2 linked regions of the Homo sapiens genome follow. The protein of the gene in region 2 purifies or fractionates together with the protein of the main gene of each other region. This does not show direct contact. Each region holds a gene or a part of one and is shown on either strand. Other genes may lie near its edges.

Region 1 (3,500 bases), on a different chromosome or scaffold from region 2:
TTGAGCCACTGTGCCTGGCCCATTTCCCCTTTTCTACATGGAGAAGGACAGAATTGGGCACTGTTCAGTTTCCATCATGGCCTCTCTTGATGTATCTTGTTAAGCTTCTGCCTTCCCTCCTGCCTGCCTCGGTCTGTGGTTTTTCAGCTCCAGAGAGAGGGTTGATTGGCCTGGCCGACCTTTCCGAGGGATGGGTTCAGCCAGCTTTGGGTCAGCTGTGGTGGGTGTGGTGTTAGCTATGGTTCCTCTAGCCTCACGGTGGCACTGTGGGCTGAGACTTCCTTCTAAGAGGCAGTGAAGGCAGGTAGCCTCAATAAAACCTGTCTGTTCTGAGATAGAAGTAGAAACACAGAAGTGCTCCAGTTGCAGTAAAAATATCCAGGTTATTTGGGGACCAAACACCCTTTCCTCAGACTAAAAGAGGGATTGTCAACCCAGATGGCTAGAGAGTAGGGGGATCTGAATGAGCGAGGGCTGTTGGTGCCAACTTAGAGAGTCTGTGTCTTGCCCGTCAGGCTGCTACTGCCCAGCCTGGGTTGACGTCATCAGGGCAAACTCAGGCTTGGTGCTTATAGGTCTTCTGTTTTAGTAAGTAGTCGATCCAGATTTTTAAGTGACACCACACGCATTTTAAATGTTGGCAGCAAATACAGATTGGCAAAAAGCACTGAGGTGTATAAAGCAGTTTTGCTGCCTGGTGATCCGTGGACTGTTTGTTTGCACTGTTTGCATTCTCTGGTCTAAAGTATCTTTTGGCTTCTTCTTTTTTTTTTTTGGATGGTTTATTTCAGATCTCTTAAGGGCAGTCCCAAGATCCAGAGCAGAGATGTATGATGACGTCCACAGCGATGGCAGATACTCCCTCAGTGGATCTGTAGCTCACTCTAGAGATGCCGGAAGAGAAGGCCTGAGAAGTGACGTATTTCCAGGGCCTTCCTTCAGATCAAGCAACCCTTCCATCAGTGATGACAGCTACTTTCGCAAAGAATGTGGCCGGGATCTGGAATTTTCTCACTCTGATTCTCGGGACCAGGTCATTGGCCACCGGAAATTGGGGCATTTCCGTTCTCAGGACTGGAAATTTGCGCTCCGTGGTTCTTGGGAACAAGACTTTGGCCATCCAGTTTCTCAAGAGTCCTCTTGGTCACAGGAGTATAGTTTTGGTCCCTCTGCAGTTTTGGGGGACTTTGGATCTTCCAGGCTGATTGAGAAAGAGTGTTTGGAGAAGGAGAGTCGGGATTATGACGTGGACCATCCTGGGGAGGCTGACTCTGTGCTTAGGGGCGGCAGTCAAGTCCAGGCCAGAGGTCGAGCTCTAAACATCGTTGACCAGGAAGGTTCCCTCCTAGGAAAGGGGGAGACTCAGGGCCTGCTCACAGCTAAGGGGGGTGTTGGGAAACTTGTCACATTGAGAAATGTGAGCACAAAAAAAATACCCACCGTGAATCGTATTACTCCCAAAACTCAGGGCACTAACCAAATCCAGAAAAACACTCCAAGTCCTGATGTGACCCTGGGGACAAACCCAGGGACAGAAGATATCCAGTTCCCCATTCAGAAGATCCCTCTGGGGCTGGATCTGAAGAATCTTCGGCTCCCCAGAAGAAAGATGAGCTTTGACATCATAGATAAGTCTGATGTTTTTTCAAGATTTGGGATAGAAATAATCAAATGGGCAGGATTCCACACCATAAAAGATGATATTAAATTTTCCCAACTTTTCCAGACTCTCTTTGAACTTGAAACAGAAACCTGTGCTAAAATGCTTGCCTCATTCAAATGTTCCTTAAAACCAGAGCACAGAGATTTTTGCTTTTTTACTATCAAATTTTTAAAGCACTCTGCTTTGAAAACACCCAGAGTTGATAATGAGTTTTTAAACATGCTTTTAGACAAAGGTGCTGTGAAGACCAAAAATTGCTTTTTTGAAATCATAAAGCCTTTTGACAAGTACATAATGAGACTTCAAGACCGGCTTCTGAAGAGTGTCACACCTTTGCTTATGGCCTGCAATGCCTACGAGCTAAGTGTCAAGATGAAGACCCTCAGTAACCCCCTGGACTTGGCTCTTGCCCTAGAAACCACCAACTCTCTCTGCCGGAAGTCTTTGGCCCTTTTGGGACAGACATTTTCCTTGGCCTCTTCTTTCCGGCAGGAGAAAATCTTAGAAGCTGTCGGCCTGCAAGATATAGCTCCCTCACCTGCTGCGTTTCCAAACTTCGAAGACTCCACTTTGTTTGGGCGAGAGTACATAGACCACCTGAAGGCCTGGCTAGTCAGCAGCGGATGTCCCCTCCAGGTTAAGAAAGCCGAACCAGAGCCGATGCGAGAGGAGGAGAAAATGATTCCTCCTACGAAACCTGAAATTCAGGCCAAGGCTCCAAGTAGTCTGAGTGATGGTAAGGAAATCAGCCAAAGTTTCTATTTGTTGTTTTTCGTGTTTCTTTGGTAATGTCTTTTATTCGAGATTTTTTTACACAGAAGTTCTTTAGCCAATTGGAAACATATCAGGATTTTAGTAGAAAACGCACATTGGCCAATATATGTCTGCCATTCATTCTGTGAATGTGTATTAGGAATCTGCTGTTTACCATAGAAGTCTTTAGACAGCCGGGTGTGGTGGCACATGCCTGTAATCCCAGCACTTTGGGAGGCTGAGGCGGCAGATCACTTAAGACCAAGAGTTTGAGACCAGCCTGGCCAACATGGTGAAACCCCATCTCTACTAAAAATACAAAAACTAGCCGGGTGTGGTGGCACGCACCTGAAATCCCAGCTACTCGGGAGGCTGAGTTAGGAGAATCCACTTGGACCTGGGAGGCGGAGGTTTCAGTGAGCTGAGATCACCCCACTGCACTCCAACCTGGGTGACAGAGCAAGACTCTGTCTCAGAAAAATAAAAATTTTTAGACATTTTTAGGTCAAATACCTCTCTGGGAATTTGGTAGAAAGCTGTGGCCATTGCCAGAAAAAATGCTCATCTATTCACGCACAATTTTACCTATATCATCCGGGGGATTCGTACCTTTCTGCAGCCAAGGTTAAGAACGCTTGTTCCTTTTTTTTTCTTTTTAACCTTTGAAAAAAAGAAGGGTTGACTTTCTTTCCTTGTTTTTGTTTTTTTGAGACAGGGTCGTGCTCTGTCACCCAGGCTGGAGTGCAGTGGCATGACCATGGCTCACTGCAGCCCCGACCTCCTAGGCTCAAGTGATCCTTCCGCCTCAGCCTCCTGAGTAGCTGGGACTATAGGCATGTACCACCATGCCTGGCTAACTTTTTTTGTATTTTTTTGTAGAGAATCATGTTGCCCAGACTGGTCTCGAACTCCTGAGCTCAAGTGATCTACCTGCCTCAGCCTCCCAAAGTGCTGGGATTATAGGTGTGAGTCACTGCACCTGGCCTGGAACCCTTGTTCCAACATGTCCCCACAAGGTATTACTAGAAGGGAGAAAAGACACAGAGCACTGTCTCTGAGGAATCCCCAGGCTCCTGAGGGAAGA
Region 2 (3,500 bases):
CCTTTAAAAAGGTAAGCTCTGATATTAAAGTAACATTTAAAATAATAGTTTGTACTTAAAGGGGGAAAAGTTTTTGTGGTTTTAGTGTTAAGACTTAGTTTTAGATGTGAAGAAGGGCCCATCTAATGAAACTTCTCCCTCAAAGCAAATATGTGCAGGAAAGAACAATATTTATAAATATTCTTGTAATTTTCACAACACATAGCAATTCCCCATGAGTAGTTTAATCACCACAGTAAGCGAGTTCTGTATGGTTGCTCCAAGTGAGGGTGAGAGTAGAGAAATCAGGTTTTCTTCTTCCTATACCCTCTAGAATTCTTATATAAGGTGATGATGTATCACAAAGGAAATTCCTCAATATCATACTGGAAATAGTGGAAGTAGACAAAAATTCAAGTCCCTGTGTCTTAATGGAAGTTCGTTCTTTGGAGCGGAATGAAAAGTTCAGGACCAGGTTAAACTTCCACTAGTAACCGACCTCAAGCAGCAAGAGGATACTCAGAAATTGGTATGGAGCTTGCTTGGATTTTGTATAATAGATCAGTCATGTCACCTGAAGCTGTGCCCCTGCCTACTTTATTTATGTCACCTCTATAGTTGCAGTCTTACAGTTGGTACATGCATATGCTTTTTGATGAAAAGAAAATGGAGGGCAAAGATCTGTTCTTGTTTCTCCTGCCTTCACATAATTTCTCTTTATTCAACATTACTCTTCTAAGACTTTCTTATAATAGCTATTGAGGCAAAAGAAAAGCCAATCTGAATATATTAATTATTTTTATATATGAAGATGGTTAAAGATTTCAGAGTTAAAAAATATGGAGACTATAGTTTTTCCTAAAAAAGAATTTCCTTTTGTTTTTCTGAAAAAACAAAACTGGTACCAAAAACATAACTGGTACCAGGCAAAATTAAACAGAACATAAATCATTTATGAAAGGAAATACGGTCTTGTAAATATTTGGAATTGAAGGGCCAGGTTCTGTGGCTCATGCCTGTAATCCTAGCACTTTGGGAGGCCGAGGCGGGCAGATCACTTGAGGCCAAGAGTTCAACACCAGCCTGGCCAACATGGGAAAACCCTGTCTCTACTAAAAATACAAAAATTAGCTGTGCATTGTGGCACATGCCTGTAGTCCCAGCTACTCGGGAGGCTGAGAGGCAGGAGAATCACTTGAACCTGGGAGGTGGAGGTTGCAGTGAGCTGAGATTGTACCACGGCACTCCAACCTAGGTGACAGAGCAAGACTCCATCTCAAATAAAACAAAACAAAAAAACCCCCAAACAACAACAATGAAAATATTTGGAATTGATAAGAAAGTAGTTAGGTGGAGAAAACAGGATAGGAATTGTAGACCTTAAGGACTTTTAAGAAAGTCTATTTGCAAATACAAACTACCAAAAAGCAAGTATTTTTCCTTCCAATTCCTTGGAACAATATCACCCTATATCTCCATACGTTTATCAAATAACAGTATGTTTCAGTGTTTGTGTAAGGATAAAGCAGGAACGGGCATCTTTCTTCACATAAATGTTTGTATTTTAAAAACAAATATTCATCATTTTACTTATTTATCTTGTTGCCAATAAATATTTTTCTTTAACATTTAAAAAAAAGATGGCTGAATGTTATTTTATCACTAGTATTGTACCATGATTTACTTAACAACTACCTCTACTGTTGCTTCCAATATTTCACTTCTTCATTAAAAAAAATAACACTGTGGTGACAATCCACATGGGTAATTCTTTGACTCAGACAGGGTTCCAATCCCAAATCTACCATTTGCTAGCCGTGTGACACCAAGAAAGCTACTTAACTTTTTTAGTCTCAGTTTATCTGAAAATGGGGCTTATACTCATAACAGTATTATGTTTCCTAAGATAGTTATGTATTACAAGGTGAGTAAGCTTTTATAAAACAATGCCAAATGGGCCAGTGTGGTGGCTCACGACTGTAATCCCAGCGCTCTGGGAGGTCAAAGCGGGCAGATCACTTGAGGTCAGGAGTTTGATACCAGCCTGGCCAACATGGCAAAACCCTGTCTCTACTAAAAATACACAAATTAGCCAGGTGTGGTGGTGTACTCCTGTAATCCCAGCTACTCTGGAGGCTGAGGCATGAGAATCGCTTGAACCTGGGAGGTGGAGGTTGCAGTGAGCTGAGATCACGCCACTGCACTCCAGCCTGGGTGACAGAGCAAGACTCTGTCTCAAAAAATAAATGAATAAACCAACAATACCAAATGGAAGTATCTTCCTTTTGTTCCCCTTAAGTAACCTCTAGAGTTCCCTTAAAGATTGAAAAGTTTATGCAGATTACAGATTTTTCCATATTCTAATGTAAGCCAAACATTATTGATTTAAAAATTGAATCTTGTTTATATGTGACTATGTAAGTATAAATATTTATACCTCAAATTACTCATATGTATACTCTTCACATTGTTATTCACTGAATGTTTCTCAATAGTGGCATAGAATTTGGGCTCTGAAGCCAGACCACTGAATACAAATCCCAGTTTTACCATTTACCAGCTGTGTGACTCTATGAATATTATTTAACTTCCCTGTGTCTCACTTTCATGTTGTGTGAAATGGAGATAATGTTGTCTTCTTCAATGGGCTGTTGTAAAGGTTGGGAAAGAACTGGCTACTGGGCAGTGATAGTACAACAGAAGGTACAAATATATCTTAAAATAGTGATTTCATTCTATTAAAAAATAAACATAGCAAACTTGTACACATCTCTCTCTGAAATGGGTAGAGATGTTAGTAAGAGGTAATCTACTAGTTTCAGACAAAAGATGGAATAACTGGTACCAGGCTAGTCCTCCTGCCATGGCACCACTAGAAAACTGGACAAAAATACATTTTTCAGATACTGGACAATAGGCAGCACAGTAGTGTGATCCCTGAAGGGCATCAATGAGTAACAAATTAGATAAACCCTATATCATCCCAGCTTTCTGGCTGGAGACACATTACTGGTTGCTACACAGGGTGGGGGAACCCAACCAGAGGATGGTGGTTTATGGAGAGATAGAGATGGTTGTTTAGGGAGCCTGAGAAAGCTGGAATATGCTGGGATATGTTAGGCGGAGTACCAGAATACACAGAGTAAGTTTTAGAAATCTGCATAGTAACCCACTTGAGTGTTCAGCTGAATATTAAGCTGTCCATGTGCGCGGTGAAACTCCATAAAGCAGGAAGGACAACTTCTCACTAAAGAATACTGGGGAACTATAGGCTGAAAATTGCTGGAGCTTGCACTGGACTAGGAAAAAGTCAAGTTCTAACCAGCCAGGGAGAGCTCGTTGAACACCTGAGACATTGTAAAGATCCCGGAAGGGTCACTCCTTAGGTGTAGGACTAAACTGGCACGAGAGTACAGCTTATTGGAGACCTATGCTGTACAATACAGTAGGCACTAGCCACATACCATTTAAATTAAATAAAAAATTCAGTTACTGAATTATACTAGCCACATTTCAAGTAT

What was found. The genes of interacting proteins can lie anywhere in the genome.
Region 1: the proteins of NDUFAF2 (region 2) and SUGP2 fractionate together in Homo sapiens (co-fractionation; one large-scale study listed by BioGRID). This does not show direct contact.

What each region holds. Positions count from the first base shown.
Region 1 is NC_000019.10:19,023,518-19,027,017, reverse strand, and holds part of SUGP2 (SURP and G-patch domain-containing protein 2), read left to right. Parts: intron 1-791; coding exon 792-2,399; intron 2,400-3,500. UniProt on the Homo sapiens protein: May play a role in mRNA splicing.
Region 2 is NC_000005.10:61,147,705-61,151,204, reverse strand, and holds part of NDUFAF2 (NADH dehydrogenase [ubiquinone] 1 alpha subcomplex assembly factor 2), read right to left. Parts: intron 1-3,500. UniProt on the Homo sapiens protein: Acts as a molecular chaperone for mitochondrial complex I assembly. Complex I functions in the transfer of electrons from NADH to the respiratory chain. The immediate electron acceptor for the enzyme is believed to be ubiquinone.